Linked DNA regions of Homo sapiens. The protein of the gene in region 2 purifies or fractionates together with the protein of the main gene of each other region. This does not show direct contact. Each region holds a gene or a part of one and is shown on either strand. Other genes may lie near its edges.

Region 1 (7,109 bases), on a different chromosome or scaffold from region 2:
CACAGTAGTGATACAAATACTGATCCACGTAGAGTCCAGTAGCTGCAGGTGTATAAAATTGGTTGCAGAGGGCATATATTTGTGAACCATATAGAGATCCAGAAGACTGAGCAGTTGGGTTCACTCCCATTATATAGACAATTGTGGCAATAAACACCATGATGCCCAGGATAGCACTCACTATTATCACACTTAAGTAGTATCTTCTTGTTCTGGACATTTCAGATCTTATAACACTGGTAACAAAGATCACCAACGCGGCAATGAAACAAAAGGCAGCCATGGCCAACATGAAGCCCTTTGCTGCTCTTGGGTCTGTATAGCCTCCGTAGCCATAGCCATAACCATAGCCATAGCCATAGCCACTTCCGTAGCTACCAAAGCCACTTCCTCCATAAGGGTAGCCTACACTACCTCCTAAAAGGGAAGTTCCATAGCCTCTGTCCCAGGCAAGCGTGGAGGCCACACAGGCAAAGATGGCAATGCACATCACAATAATGAGCATAGACAGGATCCGAATCACTCCTGGAGGAGAGGTCCATTTGTAGAAGTGAAGAATTTCATCTTCTGGGTAAAAAGAGTAGGCTGGCTGAGAGAGCATTGGTCGAACATGCATCTCTCCACCATATATGTCATTGCTTGGTGCATAATGATTCGGTTTGCTGAAATGAACATGAAAATAATTTCAAGTTAGCATTTTTTGGTAGTAAGCAGAAAGAACACAACTTATTTGGAATAATTTAAACCATTGGGTAAATGAAACTAAAGCTTATCTGTGCACAGGAATCACCTGGAGGGCTTGTTAAAACATAAGATTATTGGCCTCTAGCCACAACCCATTCTGCTCAGACATTTGGGTTATCTCTGTTTGGGGGTATTGTAAACAGTTTAACTATAAACATCCTTGAATGTGTATTCTGGTACGGAACAGTACTTATTTTTCTAGGGTATATAACCAGGAGAATTTCTGGATCACATATTTTTATATCTTCAACTTCACTAGACAGTATCAAACTGTTTTCCAAAGTGATTGTACCAATTACCTACAGTGGAATGGGTAACTGTAATATATCCATACAATGGAATACTCCATAGCTATACTGTCCAATGTGGCAGCCACTAGCCACTTGGGTCTATCATACACTTGAAATGTATCTAGTCCGGCTGGGCACGGTGGCTCATGTCTGTAATCCCAGCACTTTGGGAGGCCAAGGCGGGTGGATCACTTGAGGTCAGGGGTTCAAGACCAGCCTGGCCAACATGGTGAAACCCCATCTCTACTAAAAATACAAAAATTAGCCAGACGTGGTGGCATGCGCCTGTAATCCCAGCTACTCAGGAGGCTGAGGCACGAGAATTGCTTGAACCCGGGAGGTGGAGGTTGCAGTGAGCCGAGATCGTGCCATTGCACTCTACCCTGAGTGACAGAGCAAGACTCCGTCTCAAAAAAAAAGAAATGTGGCTAGTCCAAACTGAGATACGCTGTTAAAATGCACAGTGGAGAGTCTGAGGTGGGCAGATCACTTGAGGCCAGGAGTTTGAGACCAGCCTGGAGAACATGGTAAAACCCTATCTCTACTAAAAATACAAAAATTAGCCAGGCATGGTGACACATGCCTGTAATCCCACTTACTTGGGAGGCTGAGGCACGAAAATCAAGAATCCCTTGAACCCAGGAGGCAGAGGTTGCAGTGAGCTGCGATCACACCCACTGCACTCCAGCCTGGGTGACAGGGCAAAAAAATTTAAAAATGCACAATGGATTTCAAAGATATAATATGAAGAAAGAATGTAAAATATTTCCTGAATCATTCATTTTTTACATCAATCACGTGATGAAGTAATGTTTTAGATATACAAGATTAAGTGAAATATATTAAAATTAATTTCTTCTTTTGGCCAGGCACGGTGGCTCACGCCTGTAATCCCAGCACTCTGGGAGGCCGAGGCGGGTGGATCACCTGAGGTCAGGAGTTCGAGACCGGCCTGGCTATCCTGGTGAAACCCCATCTCTACTGAAAATACAAAAACTAGTTGGGCGTGGTGGTGTGTGCTTGTAATCCCAGCTACTTGGGAGGCTGAGGCAGGAGAATCACTTGAACCCAGGAGGTGGAGGTTGCAGTAAGCCGAGACCGTGCCATTGCACTCCAGCCTGGGCAAAAAGAGCAAAACTCTGTCTTAAAAAAAAAAAATTATCTTTTTATTTTTAATGAAAGTATAAAATTACATATATGGCTCATGTTATATTTCTACAGTGCTATGAAGCCAAAACTGATGAACTATGAATACATGCAGTTACAGGTAATGCTGAAAAAAATGAAAAAATACATATCGCATTATTATATTTACATAAAGTTTTAAAACAGGTAAAACTGGCCAGATGTGGTGGCTCACACCTATAATCCCAGCACTTTAGGAGGTGGGCGGGTCACCTGAGGTCAGGAATTTGAGACCAGCCTGGCCAACATGGCGAAACCCCGTCTCTACTAAAAGCATAAAAATTGGTTGTGCATTGTGGTGGTTACCTGTAATCCCATCTACTTGGGAGGCTGAGGCAGGAGAATTGCTTGAATCCAGGAAGTGGAGGTTGCAGTGAGCCAAGATTGTGCCACTGCACTCCAGCCTGGGCAACAAAGTGAGAGTCTGTCTCAAAAATAAATAAATAAAACAGGTAAAACTAAACTGAAATGTTTAGGATATACAAGATGATAAAATGATAAAAGCAGGTAATGATCATACGTCAGGACAGTGGTCTCCAGAGAAAAGGAGAGGACACAGGGAAGGACTTTGAAGTGTTCTGTTTCTTGACCTGGGTGATGAGTATGTATGTTTGCTTGGTCTTTCCTCATGATCTCCTACATATGTTCTGTGTCCTTTTCTTTATGTATGTTGCAGTTCACCATTATTTACAAAAGCAACACAAAATAAGTGTCAGATTAGTGGTGCATTACTCAATTACTATATTCTCTAGTATGTTTTAAAAACTGTATTGTCATAAACAACTTGTGTCCCCACCATGTTTTAGGCACTAGTAAGGAGGTTAAAGAACTGGAACACAACCTTCACGTGATATTGTAAAATATGTATTTAGTCTTCATCTCCATTTTCTGGCATACAACTCCTAAAATCTTTGGACTCTCCAAAGTGATAAGTATCCCTTATATGCTAATGAGATGATAGGTTCCTGGCAGCCCTAGGAAGCTTCAGGATGGGAGCTAGGATTAGAGGGTTGGAACTTTTCAGCCCCAACCCTCTCTGGACAGGAAAGAGGGGCTGAAGCTTAAACTGCTCACCAATGGCCAATGATTTAGTCAATCATGCCTATGTCATAAAGCTTCCATAAAAACCCAAAAGGACCGAATTCACAGAACTTCTGGACAGCTGAACATGTGCAAGTTCCTGGAGGGTGGCACAACCAGGGAGGGCTGCTTCCCACATACCTCGCCCTGTCCACCTCTTCATCTGGTGTTTGTTGGCATCCATTGTAATATCATTTGTTTGTTCATTCATTCATTCATTCTTAAAAGACAGGGTTTCCCTATGTTGCCCAGGCTGGCCTCAAACTCCTGGGCTCAAGCAATCCTCCTGCCTCAGCCTTCTGAGTAGCTGGGATAACAGGCATGCACCACCACACCTGGCTTTTGTAATACCCTTTATAATAAACCAGTAATGGTAAGTACTGTTTCCCTGAGTTCTGCAAGCCACTTTAGCAAATTAATTGCACCCAAGGAGACAACTGTGGGAATCCTGATTTACTGTAGGTGGGTCAGAAACACAGGCCACAACCTGAGCTTGTGGCTGCTACGTGAAGTGGGGGCAGTCTTGTGGGAATGAGCCCTGAACCTGTGATCTGATGCTATCTCTGACAGTGTCAGAATTGAACTGATAATTAGAGGACACACAGCTATTGTCCACTGTAGAACTGATTACTTGGTTGCTGGTGGGGAAATATCCCCACAAATTCTGGTGATCAGAGGTCACAGATGTGTTGTGACAGAACAGCAGGAGAAACTGTTTGTTTTTGCCTATATCACACTCCACTACACTTATCATGGTTAAAGCTGCAAACTACTTAGAGGAGGAAATCCCTATCAATGTTTGATAGCAAATTTGGAATTCAAAAATTCACTGATAAGTCTTCACATGACCAAGGAGCCCAAAACCCCTCAACACTGCTTGTTTTAGATCATGGCAGGAATCACTCTTAAAACTGACAGTATGGAAAGTATTATGCTAAGTGAAAGAAGCCAGTTACAAAAGGCCACATATTACGTGATTTCTCCATTTATACAAAATATGCAGAATAGACAAATCTATAGAGACAGAAAGTAGACCAATAGTTGCTTAGGGCTGATGGAACTGGGAGGTGACTGCCAATGGATAGGTTTCTTTGGAGAGTAATGAAATGTTCTAAAATTAATTGTGGTGATGGTTCTACAACTCTGTGAATATACTAAAAACCATTAAACTATCCATTCTAAATGGGTAAATTGTAAAGTATGTTAATTATATCTCAATAAAGCTGTTATTTTTATTTATTTATTTATTTTTTGAGACGGAGTTTTGCTCTTGTCACCCAGTCTAGAGTGCAATGGCGCCATCTCAGCTCACCTCAACCTCCGCCTCCTGGGTTCAAGCGATTCTCCTGTCTCAGCCTCCCAAATAGCTGCAATTATAGGCATGCATCACCATGCCCGGCTAATTTTGTATTTTCAGTAGAGATGGGGGTTTCTCCACGTTGGTCAGGATGGTCTTAAACTCCCGACCTCAGGTGATCCACCCGCCTCGGCCTCCCAAAGTGCTGGGATTACAGGCATGAGCCACCAGGCCTGGCCTTTTTTCTTTTTTTCAGACGGAGTCTCGCTCTGTCTCTAGGCTGGAGTGCAGTGGCGTGATCTCGGCTCACTGCAACCTCCACCTCCTGGGTTCAAGTGAATCTCCTGCCTCAGCCTCCCAAGTAGCTGGGATTACAGGCAAGTAGCTGGGATTAGAGGTGCGCGCCACCACAGCCAGCTAATTTTTGTATTTTTAGTAGAGACGGGAGTTCACCATGTTGGCCAGGATGGTCTCGATCTCTTGACCTTGTGATCCGCCAGCCTCGGCCTCCCAAGGTGCTGGGATTACAGGCGTGAGCCACCGCACCCGGCCTAAAGCTGTTATTTTTAAAAACTGACAATATGTTCCCAATGGCCACCTAAATGAGGCATTTAAATGGAAGCTTCATTATCATTTGTACAAAACAAAAAGGAACATACAAATATAAACCTTGGCAATCTCTTGAAACAAACATTAGGAATAGGTGACAGCAGTTGTCCTAGCAGAGACAAACTGTCATTCTGAAAGTTGAGAGAAATTCAGTTTTCAGTGCAGACCCTTTGATACAATTTAAATTTACAAGTACACATATCGTTTTATTTTTAAAAGCAAACACTTAAAGTTTCAACCATACTTATTGTTTACATGTGATAGACTTTTTAAAAGAGAATAACTAAAGAATTATTTACTTACAATTCATCAGGCCTGTAAGGAGGTGGACTTTCAAGAGGCCTGGATGACATGGCTGATTGTCAATGGTCAGCTGATCTTCAGGATGAGCAATGCCCTTTAGCTTCCAAGATAAACCAATCTAAGCAACAAAAGTAGAGTTATGGCATTACTACTAAGCTCACAGTTTCTTTCTTTTCTTCATCCCACCCCCACCCCGAGACAGGGTCTCACCCTGTCACCCAGGCTGGAGTGCAGTGGTCCAATCACAGCTCACTGCAGCCTTGATCTACCAGGCTCAAGTACTCCTCCTACCTCAGCCTCCCAAGTAGCTAGGACTACAGACCTGCACCACCATGCCTGGCTAATTCCTGTATTTTTTGTACAAAAATTTGAAATATATATAATTTCATATTACTTTTGAAAGTTCATATTAAATGAGAATGTATAAGAAAGTGCACATATAGCCGCACTAGCACATACTAGCTCCTCAATGCAAAGTAACCATCTAATGGGTTAAATGCCTTTATCATTAAAAATGATAATAAAATGCATCTATAAATGGTGGAATTGTAGATATTTTTCCCTTATCTCCTTTTCCAAGTCTTCGAAACTGAGCACAATTTTTATACAAGGGGAGAAAAAACAATATGCATGGTATTAATTGGTCATTTTCTGAAATTTTGTCCTAAAATTCTTCAGCACAAGTTCCTAAACATCTGAGGAGAAATTTCACTCAACAAGCATTTATTAAGTGCCTACACTAGACCAGGAGAGCCTGTGGGAGTGACGTATGACAGCCAGCGCTGGGGTCCTGGCTCTTCCAGGCTGGTGTGGTGCTGATAACACAGGTGGCTAGCTTATGGAACAGTGAAGTGGGAGCATGGTGGAATGGTGTCATCTTTTAAAATAAGGTTACAGTAAGAATATAGTGGATGGAGGATGAGTAAGAAAAGGGAGGGCTTTGAAAGTCTAGTGGGAGTGTCTCACTTCCTTCAGGTAGGAAACAGGGAGCCAGTTCGTGATTCTCGGCAAGGGAGGTGTAAGTTTGATTTGAACCAGATTTGAAAGACAAAGTCAACAGTAAAAAGGAGCACCTACAGTCAGCAGCAGCAAACCTAGGTGTGAGGCAACAATGAAGGACTAGCTTAGGAGACAGAAGATAGGAAGGAAACTAACATTCATCAGACACCTACCGACGTGCTGGGTGCTTTACATAAAACCTCCTTTCATCCTCAAAACGACCCTCCATGGTTGATTAGTCACTTTACAGATGCAAAGAGGGTCAGAAAGAGATGTGAAGTAATATGCTCAAGGTTATATGGATGTCAGTGAGTCACTCAGATGTAACTTGAACCCAGATGATTTCATGTGCTTTTCACTATGCTAGTTTGAAACAATGAGTTCCATTTGGGAAACACCAGTTTTTGTGGGGAGTGCACATCTGGTGTTAGCATCCATGAGGAAGTGAAGATGGAGGTCATCTGCCTACGTCCGTAGGTGGATCCATGGGCACTGAGAGCTCTCCAGGAAAAAGACAAGTCTCAGCAAGATGTGGTAAACACACAACCCCCTAACCTATAAAGCTTGAGGATTATTCTAGAAAACCCAGTGCTGGAGACACT
Region 2 (7,614 bases):
CTGTAGTCTCAGCTACTTAGGAGGCTGAGGTGGGAGGATCACTTGAGGATAGGAATTGGAGGATGAAGTGAGCTATGATTGTGCCATTGCCCTCTAGTCTGCACGACCTTGTCTCATTTAAAAAAAAAAAAAAGCCAGGTGCAGTGGCTCATGCCTGTAATTCCAGCACTTTGGGAGGCTGAGGTAGGCGGATCATGAGGTCAGGGGTTCGAGACTGGCCTGGCCAACATGGTGAAATCCTGTCTTTACTAAAAATACAAAAATTAGCCGGGCATGGTGGCACACACCTGTAATCCCAGATACTCAGGAGGCTGAGGCAGAAGAATCGCTTGAACCAGGAGGCAGAGGCTGCAGTGAGCCAAGATCGTGCCACTGCACTCCAGCCTGGGCAACAAGAGCATAACTATCTCAAAGCAAACAAACAAAAAAAGTATGTGGCCAAGAGGGGAAGTAATGTATGTCACGGAGGTGTAATTCATGGTTTTTGGAAGGCAATGGCATCCCAGACTGGCTACCTGTTACCTGTGTACAAGGTGTGTACCTCCTGTGCCTCAGTTTCCTTATCTGCAAAATGGGAAGAATCACAGCACCAATTTTGGCACCAAGAGGGAGACGGGCTGCCTGACAATAAGACGGAGAAGAATGTGGAGCAGAGATGGGGCAAATGGTCCCTGACAGCTTTCAGCACCTGGATCTAGCCATACCTGAAGTCGGCCCTGTGAGCTGACTTAAGCTCAGTGAACCAACAAATCCCCTTTTGGGCTGGCTGAGAAGATTGAAAAAGGAAAGGCGAGTAAGTCCTGGCAGGGTGTAAGCCTGGCTTTTTCTGGGAAGGCCTCTGAGTCAACAGTACACACAAGAGGTCCATGTGAGAAAATTAAGCCCCCGGCAGTGAGATCCCATAGAAGGGCCTTACCTGGGAAGGAGACGTTCACGGGCTCGCTGAGGTCTGACAGCTGGGACTGGTTGAGCTCACCTAACACTCCATACTGGCAGTGGAAGGGTCCCCCTGGAGCCTTGCTGCTGCCGCCGCTCAGGTTAAATGTCACCCCGCGCTGGTCCGTGGGGGCCTGCAGGAGCTGGACCACCTGCCCCCCTCGATACAGTGTGAAATTCGCCCCCGGGAAGTTCCCAGGGGCCATGCATGCGATGTGGATGGGGTCCTCTTGGCTGCTTGGGTACGGGGGCACCAGCCGGATGGATGGTGCTGGGATCGCCAAGGAGCCTGCAATGCAGAGGGTAAGGTGGGTGGGTGCGTGGTGAGAGTGGAGGCTGCCCTGGCTATGTGGCCTCGGGCAAGTAGACCACCCTCCCTCAGCCTTGTGTTTTCTGTGAGTCAGGAGGCTAGTGACCCTACCCCACACTGCCTGGCACATGGTGACGGCTCCCTGTAGTTGAATTACTTTTCTTTTTTCTTTTTTTTGTGAGTCGGAGTCTCACTCTGCCACCCAGGATGGAATGTAGTGGTGTGATCTCGGCTCACTACAGCCTCCACCTCCCGGGTTCAAGTGATTCTCCAGCCTCCCAAGTAGCTAGGATTACAGGCATGTGGCACTATGCCTGGCCAATTTTTATATTTTTAGTAGAGATGGGGTTTCACTATATTGGCCAGACTGGTCTCGAACTCCTGGCCTCGTGTGACTCCCCCCACCTCGGCCTCCCAAAGTGCTGGGATTATAGGCGTGAGCTACCATGCCTGGCCATCAGTTTTCAATAATAGCATTGGTTATTACATAGCAACACAACTATACTCTTATTTTTTATTTAATTTATTATTACTTTATTTATTTATTTAGAGACAAAATCTTGCTTTGTCGCCCAGGCTGGAGTACAGTGGCCTCAGCCTCCTGAGTACCTGGGACTATGTGCCACCATGCCTGGCTAATTTTTATATTTTTAGTAGAGACGGGGTTTCACCATGTTGGCCAGGCTGGTGAACCTGGCTAGCTAATTTTGCTTATTTTGTGTAGAGATGGGATCTCACTATGTTGCCCAGATCCTCACCTCAAGTGATCCTCCCACCTTGGCCTCCCACGAGCTGAGTCCTGAGTGGTGAGGAAGGACCCATTTGGAGAGCTGGGGAAGGGCATTCCAACAGAGGGAACAGCATAGGCAAAGGTCCAGGGGATGGAAGGGGAATGGGGGTGTTTAAGGAGGAGCAAACACCTGATGCAGTGGCTCACGCCTGTAATCCCAGCACTTTGGGAGGCCAAGGTGGGAGGACTGCTTGAGCCCAGGAATTTGAGACTAGCCTGGAGAACACAGTGAGACCCTGTCTCTATTTAAAAATAAAAATAAATATTAAAAAAGGAGCAGCAAGGAGGCCATCATGGCAGGAGGGAGGGGGTGAGTGAGGTGGGTGGCAGGAAGGGGAGGGGGTGAGTGAGAGGGAGGGCAGGAGAAGGAAGGGCAGAGGACTTTTATCTCCTTTCCCAGGCTTGGGTGAAGAATACGGATTTTGGAGCACGGCTTCCTGCAGGATGGTCTCCTGGGGATCCATCTCTCTCCTGATTGCCCACAGGCTTCTGAGCAGAGTGTCTGGCCAGGTGAGGTCTATACAAACCCTCCCTCGTCCAGCCTCCAACCCCCACCCACCCCTGCCACACTGATATCCCCCTAGGTAGACCCTCCTGCTGCCCCAGCACTCAAGGAGCCTTCAGAGACGAAGCGGGGCTGAATCATGGGGTGTGGGCACAGCTGACTCCAGAGGGGTGATATTTCTGATATTCATAAACTTGGGGGTGATGAGGAGCCTAAGAAGAAAAAACCAACACTACTGGAGAGTTTCCAAGGCTCAGGGGGAAAACCCATCTGCCAAGGGCTCAGCCTCCTCGATGCCCTGAGAACGGCAGCCCCTGCACTGGTTTCTGCCCCTGGAGCGGCAAGGTGGACAGAGGATGGGGGGAAAGGCGTGGGGGATCTGAGAGGGGGGCTTCAGACTCACCAGCTGCAAAGAGCAAGATGGTCCAGGGCATCTCTCTCTGCGTTTGGCTGGGAAATCCGGCTGAGGCCAGAGGGGCCCAAGGCTCCCCGCCAACTCCTCCTGTGAGGCCAGATCGGGGAAAGGAGAACCAGGGCTGATTCTCGAGCTGAGAGTTTCCTCACTGGCAGGAAGTTGCACACACAGGCTTGGGCACTGAAAGGGACTCTCTCCCCTCCCCACCCCTTCCCCAAACACACATCAGACCCGCGCACCTCTCTGGTTGCGGTTCTGCAGATTAGAGGGGAAAAAAATGGATGAGATGTTTAGGTGGTTTTCACAATTTTTTCCTCTTTTTTTATTTTTATTTTTTGAGACAGAGTCTTGCTCTGTTGCCCAGGCTGGAGTGCAGTGGAGCGATCTCGGCTCACTGCAGCCTCCACCTCCCAGGTTCGAGTGATTCTCCTGCCTCAGCCTCCTGAGTAGCTGGGACTACAGGCAGGAGCCATCATGCACAGCTAATTTTTGTATTTTTAGTAGAGACGGGGTTTTGCTGTGTTGGCCAGGATGGTCTCGATCTCTTGACCTCATTATCTGCCCGCCCCAGCCTCCCAAAGTGCTGGGATTTCAGGCGTGAGCCACCGTGCCCAGCCTTTTGTCTCTCCTTCTAAGAGAACTCCTGGGAATGAGACAGGGTGACAGCAGTGGGATGTTTGGAAACCCATGCCCAAGACACAAACCATAGCCTAACCAGCACCAACATTTAAACAAATATGGGCAGGAGTGGGAGGACATGGTGGTTAGGGCTTGGCCTCTGTGACCTCAGGCATGGCTTACCTCCTTTGAGGCTTCAGTATACTGCTCTGCAGAATGGGGCTAAGAGTAGTAGACATTAGGCCAGACGTGGTGGCTCACGCCTGTAATCCCAGCACTTTGGGAGGCTGAGGTGGGCAGATCACCTGAGGTCAGGAGTTCGAGACCAGGCCAACGTGGTGAAACCCCGTCTCTACTATATACAAAAAATTAGCCGGGCGTGGTGGCACACGCCTGTAATCCCAGCTACTCGGGAGGCTGAGGCAGGAGAATCACTTGAACCCAGGAGATGGAGATTGTGGTGAGTTGAGATCGCGCCATTGCACTCCAGCCTGGGCAACAAGAGTGAAATTCCATCTCAAAAAAAAAAAAAAAAAAAAAGAGCAGTGGACATTAGATTCAAAGAACTTGTAGTAGGAAATGCAACGCCTAGTGGGTAGTGCATGCTCACAAGGTAAAGTTACAGGGAGGAAAAAGACTCAGAAGTTTGATCAGCCACATGAAAGGGAATACCAGTTCCAGATCAATTCTGGATATAGTTTGTGATATAGTTCACAGGATAAACTGCCTCCTGTTTACAGCCCAGAAACTTCCAAGTTTCTCTTACTACTGGGTTTGCATTTATCTTTTTAAACATTTCTGTTCAAGCCAGTCAGGTTTGCTTGGGGGTTTGGACCCAAGAAGGATGTGGCATGTGGTCATCAAACACCAAAATGCGTCATTAGAGTAAACTTTTTTCTTTGGACACAGAAAGTTCAATCCAACCTCAGGGCCTTTGCACACACTATTTCCCTGGCCTGGAACACAATTCTGTCAACCTGGTCAAATCCTGCTTCTCCTTCAGGTCTCAGTTTAAATAGCACTTCTGGGAAAACTTTCCAGGCCCCTCTGGACTTAGAACAATCCCCTAGCTAAATTCTCCCACAGTGCCCTGTAATATTCCTTTATTGCAATTGGCATGCTTGTATCTTCAAGGAATTTGCTCATTTCATCAGAGTTGTCAAATGTATTGGTGTAAAGTTATTTATATCCCCTTACTATCCTTTTAATGTCTGTAGGGTCTGTAGTGATGTTCCTTCTTTCATTCCTGACACATAAATTAGTGAAGTCTCCTTGTCTCTTATCGGTCTTCCTAGGAGCTAATCATTGTTATTGATCTTTTCAAAGTGCCACAGTTTGGATTTGTTGTTTTATTTTCTATTTTATTGCCTTTTGACTTGACTTTATTCTTTTCTTTTTTCTGGTTACCTTATGTTCAATTGGCTCTTCTTTTCCTAGCTCATGTTTTGTTTTTAAATTTAAACTTCACCAGCAGAAATTTGTATTAATAGCTTCTTAAGATGGATGCTTATATAAACTCTTTTTATTAAAAAAAAATTTTTTTTAATTAGCCAGATGTGGTAGTGGGTGCCTGTAGTCCCAGCTACTCGGGAGGCTGAGGCTGGAGAATGGCGTGAACCCGGGAAGGAGAGCTTGCAGTGAGCTGAGATCATGCCACTGCACTCCAGCCTGGGCAACAGAGCGAGACTCTGTCTCAAAAAAAAAACAACAAAAAAACATTTTTTTTTTGAGACAGGGTCTTGCTCTATTGCTCAGGCTACAGTGAAGCAGCATGATCATGACTCACTGCAGCCTCACCCTGCTGGGCTCAAGAGATCATCCCATCTCAGCCTCCTGAGTAGCTGGGACTACAGGTGTCCACCACCACACCTGGCTAATTAAAAAAAAAAAAATTGTAGAGACAGGGTCCTATTATGTTACCCAGCCTGATCTTGAACTCCTGGGCTCAAGCAATCCTCCTGACTCAGCCTCCCAAAGTGCTGGGATTACAGGCAGCTCATTAACTTTAAACCCTCTTTTTTTTTTTTTTTTTTGACGGAGTCTTGCTCTGTCGCCCAGGCTGGAGTGCAATGGCGTGATCTCGGCTCACTGCAAGCTCTGCCTCCCAGGTTCACGCCATTCTCCTGCCTCAGACTCCTGAGTAGCTGGGACTACAGGCACCCACCACCATGCATGGCTAATTTTTTGTATTTTTAGTGGAGATGGGGTTTCACCATGTTAGCCAGGATGGTCTCGATCTCCTGACCTCATGATCCACCTGCCTCGGCCTCCCAAAGTGCTGGGATTACAGGCGTGAGCCACCGCACCCGGCCCACCTTTATCTTCTAATACAAGCATTTAAAGGTACACCTTTCCCTCCAAGAACTGTTTTAACTGCATGCCACACATTTTCATATATTGAGCGTCATTAAGTTAGAAATATTTGCTTATTTCCATTGTGCTTTCTTTTCTATGATCCAGAGAATATGTGTGTTGCTTAATGCCCAAGTACTTGGGCTTTTTGGGGGGCAGCTTACTGTTAATGATTTTTAACTCCTTTGTGGTCATATAATTTCAATACTTTGAAATGTACTGACTTTTTAGAATGGTGCAGGGTATCTCGATCCACATTGTACGTACGCTAGAAATTCAAGTACACGGTGTAGTTGTTTGGTATAATATTCTCTAAATATTAATACAATTTGGTCAAGGTAGTACACAGAATATTCTTGAATTTATTGAATTCATCCTCATGCCTTTTTTTTTTTTTGGAGACAAGGTCTTGCTTTCTTGCCCAGGCTGCTGGAGTGCAGTGGTATAATCATGGCTCACTGCAGTCTCCATCTCTCAGGCTCAAGTGATCCTCCCACCTCAGCCTTCCAAGTAGCTGGGACCACAGGCATGCACGGCACCTGGCTAAATTTTTTTTTTTTTTTTGTAGAGAAAGGGTCTCACTACATTGCCTAGCTGGTCTCAAACTCCTGGGCTCAAGTAATCCTCCCACCTTGGGCTCCCAAAGTGCTGGGATTACAGGCGTAAGCCACCACCACGCCCAGCCTCCTTCATTTTTTTTTTTTTTTTTTGAGATGGAATCTCGCTCTGTCGCCCAGGCTGGAGTGCAGTGGCGCAATCTCGGCTCACTGCAAGCTCCACCTCCTGGGTTCACGCCATTCTCCTGCCTCAGTCTCCCGAGTAGCTGGGACTACAGGCAACCGCCACCACGCCCGGCTAATTTTTTGTATTTTTTAGTAGAGACGGGATTTCACTGTGTTAGCCAGGATGGTCTTGATCACCTGACCTTGTGATCTGCCCGCCTCAGCCTCCCAAAGTGCTGGGATTACAGGCGTGAGCCACTGCACCCGGCCTTTCTTTTTTTTTTTTAAACAGAGACAGGGTCTTGCTATGTTGCTCAGGCTGGTCATGAACTCCTGAGCTCAAGCAATCCTCCCACCTTGGCCTCCCAAAGTGCTGGGGTTACAGGCGTGAGCCACCACGCCTAGCTTTTTAAATTTTTTTTTTTTTTTTTTTGAGACGGAGTCTCACTCTGTTACCCAGGCTGGAGTGAAGTGGTGCGATCTCATCTCACTGCAAACTCCACCTCCTGGGTTCAAGCGATTCTCCTGCCTCAGCTTCCTGAGTAGCGGGGATTACACGTGTGCCACCATGCCTGGCTAATTTTTGTATTTTTAGTAGAGACAGGGTTTCACCATGTTGGTCAGGCTGGTCTTGAACTCCTGACCTCGTAATCTACCCACCTCAGCCTCCCAAAGTGCTGGGATTACAGGCGTGAGCCACCGTGTCCAGCCTTTTTTTTTTTTAGACATGGTCTCACTTTGTCGCCCCGGCTGGAGTGCAGTGGCGCAATCTCGGCTGCACTGCAACCTCCATCTTCCGGGTTTAAGTGATTCTCCTGCCTCAGCCTCCTGAGTAGCTGGGATTACAGGCATGCACCACTACGGCTGGCTAATTTTTGGATTTTTAGTAGAGACAGGATTTCACCATGTTGGCCAATCTGGTTTTGAACTCCTGACCTCGAATGATCCGCCCACCTCCCGAAGTGT
Region 3 (7,109 bases), on a different chromosome or scaffold from region 2:
ACATATAGGGAGAGAGACAGAGAGAGCCAAAAGCCTGTGGGTTGTGACCAACTCAGCATTCCACTGGAGGCTATATGATCAAACAGCAAACTGTTTATCATGAATGCAGGATGTGGGCAAACTCACAACTGCACCTGCCACCAGAAGGTTTGTTGAGTGTAATCACTCCCTGGTGCCGTGCTCCTTGAGGTTATCTACTGGAACATCTAGAGACTACTGTTCAGAGAATGCAGCTGTGCAGGCCTGCTCTAAGTCAAGCAGCTGACTGACAACCACCCCCTTCTCTGTATCTCCTTTACTCAATAAATACGAAGGGCTATAGAAGCTCTGGGCCCTTGTTCACTAAAAGCAAGGAGCCCCCTGACCCCTTCTTCCAAATACATTCTTTTGTCTTTGTCTTTATTCTCACGTTCATCCTCCTTTGTTCACTCCAACAGGGATTAGGGCTGCAGCATATATATAGATCTATATATACATACACACACACACACACACACACACACACACACATATATATAGATCTATATATATATATGTGTGTGTGTGTGTGTGTGTATGTATCCCCACTCAATGGAATATTATTTGCAATAAAAAAGGACATACTATACATGCTACAACATGGATGAATCCCAAAAACATATGCTAAGTAAAAGAAGCCAATCATGAACTATCATATGAGATACTATTGATATGAAATGTTCAGAATAGGCAAATGACATAGAAATTTGATTAGTGGTTTCCTGGGCCTGGGTGGAGGCTAAGAACGAGGAGTGAATGCCAAAGGGTAAGGGGTTTCTCTATGGGGTGAAGGGAATATTCTGAAATTAGGTTGTAGTGATGGTTGTACAATGTACTAAAACCCACTAAAATGCTCACTTTAAATGGCTGAATTGTATGGTATATAAAATATGTCCCAATAAAGCTATTAAAAAATAGGAAATAAAGAAAGGGACCACACCCCCTCCTGTCTGGTCAGCTGTCACTTTGCCACCTCGATCTCTTCTTGGTTCCCCTTCCCTTATGCCGGAATCCCTCCATCAATCACCAACTTCCTCTCTTTCTCCCTCTCCCATTGCTGTGGCTCTACAGACAGAACTAACCTCACACGGAATGCTCAATCAAGGTTCAGTTGAGTGATGTCCCCGAAGTTGACGAGTTTTTTTCTGTCCCTTCAGAAAGCTTAAGCAGGGCTGGGTGTGGTGGCGCACGCCTGTAATCCCAGAACTTTGGGAGGCTGAGGTGGGCAGATCACTTGAGGTCAGGAGTGACCAGCCTGGCCAACATGGTGAAACCCCCTTCTCTACTAAAAATTCAAGAAAAATTAGCAGGGCATGGTGGCGCAAGCCTGTAATCCCAGCTACTCAGAAGGCTGAGGCAGGAGAATCGTTTGAAACTGGGAGGTGCAGGGTGCAGTGAGCTGAGATTGTGCCACTGTACTCCAGCCTGAGCAACAAAGTGAGACTCCATCTCAAAAAAAAAAAAAAAGTTAAGCAATGAAATGAAATGTGTCAATGTTCTAAAACTACTGGGGCAGGGGAAGATAATAAATAGGTATTAAATGATCCTTATGTTTCAGGCACATCACCACCATGTACTTCAGCCAGTAGGCAGTTATTACTGTGCTCACTACATGTTCAACAAATACTTACTGAGCATTCATTATGAGCTGGGCTGTGTTCCAGATGTTGGTCGTATTGTAGTAAACCACATGGACAAAAAGACCAGACATTTCTTACGCATGGGGCTTACTGACAAAACAATAAAATTAATGACTTCAACCTAAAGCATGCTGACAGGTGATAAGCAAGTGGAGAAAAAGCAGGAAGTGATGAGCAGGGAGTGCGGTGCAGGAGGGAGGTTGCAACTTCAGATATGGTGGCCAGGCAACAGCCCCCTGATGTGCCCTTTGAGCAAAGATGGGGAGGAGGAGGGCAGGACGCATCTCAAACACACCTGGGACAGAGGGAGCTGGGTGCCAAGGGGTGGAGGAAGTCCTGAGGTGCAGAAGTCCCGAGGCAGGTGTGTGTCCGGTACATCCAGGGAACAGAGCAGCTGCAGCATGACACTGAGGAGAGTGGAGGCAGCTGGGCAGAGATGGGAGGCTTAATCTTGCTAGGCCCCGTCAGTAACATAAGGGCTTTGTGTTTTCCTTTGAGGAAGATGGGAACCACCACAGGTTCTGAACAGAGGAGCGTGCAAAGTGAGAAAAAAAAGAGCAGGACCAAGCTCCTTCAACTCTGGGTCATGACTGATTTTTCTACAGATGAACATCTGACCCCAAAGGAACTGGGGCCAGTCAAAATCTCCCCTCTCCAAAACTGAAAGAGGAGACTGGGTTAGAGGGTGTGCGGCCTTAAACGGAGAGGTGATGAAGGGTGGGGAAAGCTATTAATACTGTCCTGCCACATCCCATCCGAAGCAAGAAAGCCGACCTGCACATTAAGGCCCCAGAGCCACAGCAGTGCGCAAAGGTGAGAGAAGCAGCCCAAAGGAAGAGAAACCTGCAGTGGGCCTCATTCTACAGCCTGATGTCCTTCCAGACCTACAGGACAAGGGATATGCGAGACCTGCCTGGACCTTCCAATATATCTCCTTCTGCCTTGGCCTCTGGCTTTCTCATCCTTCCAACAGAAGATCCCAGTTCAGACAGGCAATGAGCTTTTCATGTTGTCGAAGTACCGCATAGGACTAAAGTGGGTGCCATGCATGGTTCTCAGGATCAGTCAGCTTGGGTGACTCCTGAGGGAAGGGAAGGGCCTCGTGGAGGGGCAGCTGGATGCCAAGGCCTTTCTGCCCACTTCACTGCAGGCCTGGCTTCCTCCAGCTGCTGCAGGTACACCACAAAGGCCTCTACATAACTCATCAAGGTGCAAATCAATTACCTCACTCCCTTTCAAATTTCCTCATGTGGCAGTATCCATAGGAGAGCTTTCAGCATATTCTAGGAGGCTAAAAAATACACTTAGTGATCTAAGTTATTGTTACTCTTTTAAAAGGAAGTTGATTAAGCTGTGAAATATTTGCTTTGGGTGAAGTAGGTTTGGGTGTTTGAAGGGCCTGTAGGCTCTCTGTCCACAGCAGGCTGCAGTCCTACTCCGTGTGGGAAGCACGGCCAGGGCTAACTGCTCTTCCTCCTCCATTGCCTGCTGAGCAGCATGCCAAGATGCCAAACACATGCCCAGTGAAAATAAGGGCTTAATGAATGCATCTCTGTCAACTCCAGGCCAGACTTGTCCTGAATGACTGTTTCTAACTCTAGGGAACACGAGGAGGGAAGAACAATCCTACAAGAGTCTTGCTCAAGGCACACGTCTCTGTGCCCTCTACCCACAAGCATGCAGCTGCGCTGATGAGCCTCAGCAGACAGCAGAGACCAGAGGATGGGCTGCAGGGCTGCACCTACCACGAAGGCCTCCAAGGCTGCTCCTCTCCAGCTGCAACCAACAAGACCCCCATACAAACTGGTATCCTGGTCAACACCAGTCTATTTCATAGGACAAATGAAGATTTCAATAGTTACAATTATTCACAAGAAAAGTGCCAGTCCTACACTACTCCAAAGAAATGAACTCATCAGCCCTGTCACCTTTGGTGAGTGATGCAGAGGGCAGCAAGGGATGCCTGTTAGATGTTCTCTCAAGGCAGACACTGGGTGAGCTGTGGGGTTTAAATGCTGGCCCTGAACATCCTTCAAGCTAAATAATAATCCCGACCAGGAAGGCACTATCTTTCACAGCCAGGCCATATTTTTCTTAGGAATTAAAGGTAGAAAAAATCCCCGCCACTTTCCATCTACAGCAACTTCAAAATAAATCCTTCCTCATGGCATGTATTCCAGTACTAATTTCATCTATGGTTTCATCTGCTTTTCTTAATCTTCTTTTCCCTTCACTGAATTTCCCTACATAAAAATCTCAACCCTGTTGCCCTGTTGCGTGTTTTGGTTAGAACTTAAAATCCCTTTGAGGAACAAAGCTGGGCAGTACATACATTACTCAATTATGACATAGGAACCTGCAATCATTCCTAATCATCTAATGATTACTTGATTGTCTGTTCTATTATCCTTCAGGCTGTGAGTTCAATGAGAAGGAATGAACAAACAGATGAACAGATGAATGAATGAGCAACAAGCCAACAGGGTTTCTGTTCAGTTAGCCTCGGAGCACACAGCTCTTCATGTGGCGGAGACACAAAGAGTCCTTCGGTCGCCTGTAAAGCTTCTACTAGACAATTGTCTCTTCTCAGAAACTACAGGAAATGGTATTCTGATCTCCAGGATAGCTCATGCACAGGCAAAGCTAATTTCTCATCTAAGTTATACACAATGTAAAAGGTCAGTGACAAAAAGGGTTCCATTGTTAAATCTATTTCCCAAGTGAGATTTGACCTAAATAGTGCATAACATTTTAAGAATCCAAGTAAGAATACTTTTTCTTTTGAGACAGGGTCTCGCTCTGCCCCTCGGGCTGGAGTGCAGTGGCATGATCATAGCTCACTGCAGCCTGACCTCCTGGGCTTAAGTGATCCTTTCACCTCAGCCTTCCAAGTAGCTGGGACCACAGGTACGTGCCACCATGGCCAGCTGACTTTTAAATTTTGTAGAGTCGGGGTTTCACTATGTTGTCCAGACTGGTCTCAAACTCCTGGGCTCAAGTGATCCTCCCACCTTGACCTCCCAAAGTGCTGAAATTACTGACGTGAGCCATGGAGCCCAGCTGTAAAAACAAATTTTTATTTTTTCTTGAGTCTTAAAATATACGTTACCTCCATACTGTCTCTGAATATCCTGCAGACACATTTACTCAAAAGTCACAAAACAGAAGCTAGGAATATACACACTCCTTCCTAGACAAGTGTTCATATAAGATGAATGTATTCATCATATCTTACTAATACTATTACAATCTTTGTAGGGAATCAACACCAGGAAACCTAGACGTATACAGGGAGTACCTTGGCCATATAACCACTCTCTTAGCCCTACTGTTTTACTTACCTGCATTTTTAATTTCAGCATTTCCTGGATTTGAACGTGATTTCACAAATGACTTTAGGTGGGGGCTACAGAACAATCTTCACAATCTCTTCCGGGATATCTATCCTCTATTCTCCCAGGAGAACGACAACACTGAAGCTTATGCCACGGTGTCCACAGGGTAACCTGGTGAGGATTCCCTGCTCCAACCTCACTCCGCTGAGTAACAGGAACGGGCCCTGGACCACCTCGGCTGGGGATGGGTGTGGCCATCCTGAGGGCACTCACCAGGGTGACGATGGCACATTCAGCCGTCAGCTGAGCAGCACTGAACAGTGTCCGAACGAACCGGTAAATCTGCTTCTGCTCTGGGTTGTGTTTGTCATAATCTGGTGGCACTTCGGATTTCTGGGGAAGAAAATATTTTCAGATGACTGATCTCCCGATTGGAGCAAAAGAGAAATAATTAAATCATCTCATGAAACACACGGAGGAGATTACCGAAAGAGGGTGAAGATTTTCATCAAAAATATCTAAGAGCATCCTTCCATCTGGGTCCCTGGTAGGGAAAATAATAGAAAATGAAACTTACTTTCTGCAAGAATGTCATTCAAATAAAACAAAAATACATTTTAATTCAATGACTTTTTTTTTTTTTTTGGGATACGGAGTCTCACTCTGTTGCCCAGGCTGGAGTGCAGTGGCGCCATCTCAGCTCACTGCAACCTCCACCTCCTGGGTTCAAGTGATTCTCCTGCTTCAGCCTTCCAATTAGCTGGGATTACAGGCACACAACACCACACCCGGCTAATTTTTTTTTTTTGTATTTTTAGTAGAGACAAGGTTTCACCATGTTAGCCAGGCTGGTCTCGAACTCCTGACCTCAGGAGATCCACCTGCTTTGTCCTCCCAAAGTTCTGGGATTACAGGTGTGAGCCACTGCACCCAGCCAATTCAACTATTTCAAGAAACACAAGTCAGTGCTAAATGGTTATTCATGAATAATGATTTTTCTTGGGTGCAATACTTAATCACTTATGATTAAAATAGCCCAAGGAAATAAAGGTTATAAACCACACTTAGCTAAATTAAGTAAAAATTTAATTTTAATTTTTTGAGTTTTCAAATGAATCGAATCTAGGCAAATGACTTAAATTTGACATCTTATTTCCAAGCAAAGGTTGTTGGATCTGCTTAAGCCATCAACATACTGTGGGTGATAGGAAAGAAGCGCCAGGGTAAGAATGAATATCAATGTATCCTAGAGATCAGTCTGATTATTCACAACACGCAACGTCACTACTTCATTTAAGTTTCACAATTTTATACTGAAAAACAACAGGTGACAGATAAAAAGTCTTTAGTCAATAACCTATATGTGAACAGTTAGCTCTTACCAGGCTGGTACGTGCACAGAACCACTTAAAGAGGTAGCTTTCACTGTGAACACAGTACCGTGGGCCGCTGGGCTCTGCGGGGACCCTCCGTACCTCACGAGTGACAGCTCTACTTTCATCTGTTATATGAAATTTAAGTTTTGCCTAAAAAATTTTCTTTAAACAACCAAACTTGGAAATGACAGCTTTTGGCTAGCTGCATGTAATTTCCATAGTCTGTGCTTCAGTGTCAGGCTTCAGAACTTCAGAAGGCTACAGACCTGTCCCTAACACACACTTATCATGACAAACATTACAATTTCTGCTTTAGAAATTTACCATCTGTGTAAAAATAAAAGAGAAAGAGCTTAACAAAACAGCTCAATTTTCATTCCTACATTTGCACAACAGCAATTATTATTATTATTTTTTGAGACGGAGTCTTGCTCTGTCACCAGGCTGGAGTGCACTGGTGCAATCTCGGCTCACTGCAACCTCCACCTCCCGGGTTCAAGCGATTCTCCTGCCTCAGCCTCCTTGTAGAGGCTGCCTCAATATCCCTTGTAGCTGGGATTATAAGCACGCGCCACCAGGCCCAGCTGATTTTTGTATTTTTAGTAGAGACGGAGTTTCAGCATGTTGGCCAGGATGGTCTCAATCTCCAGACCTCGTGATCCGCCTGCCTCGGCCTCCCAAAGTGCTAGGATTACAGGCGTAAGCCACTGCGCTCAGCCACAGCAATTATTTTTAAAGCT

Evidence for each region.
Region 1: the proteins of C19orf38 (region 2) and OCLN purify together in Homo sapiens (co-immunoprecipitation; 2 studies listed by BioGRID and IntAct, with this or other methods). This does not show direct contact.
Region 3: the proteins of C19orf38 (region 2) and CCNY purify together in Homo sapiens (co-immunoprecipitation; 2 studies listed by BioGRID and IntAct, with this or other methods). This does not show direct contact.

Annotation. Positions count from the first base shown.
Region 1 is NC_000005.10:69,502,694-69,509,802, reverse strand, and holds part of OCLN (occludin), read right to left. Parts: intron 5,627-7,109; 5' UTR 5,559-5,626; coding exon 5,509-5,558; intron 663-5,508; coding exon 1-662. UniProt on the Homo sapiens protein: May play a role in the formation and regulation of the tight junction (TJ) paracellular permeability barrier.
Region 2 is NC_000019.10:10,843,870-10,851,483, reverse strand, and holds the start of C19orf38 (protein HIDE1 precursor), read right to left. Parts: upstream 3,070-7,614; 5' UTR 2,976-3,069; coding exon 2,945-2,975; intron 1,226-2,944; coding exon 917-1,225; intron 1-916.
Region 3 is NC_000010.11:35,528,401-35,535,509, reverse strand, and holds part of CCNY (cyclin-Y), read right to left. Parts: intron 5,538-7,109; coding exon 5,480-5,537; intron 5,387-5,479; coding exon 5,267-5,386; intron 1-5,266. UniProt on the Homo sapiens protein: Positive regulatory subunit of the cyclin-dependent kinases CDK14/PFTK1 and CDK16.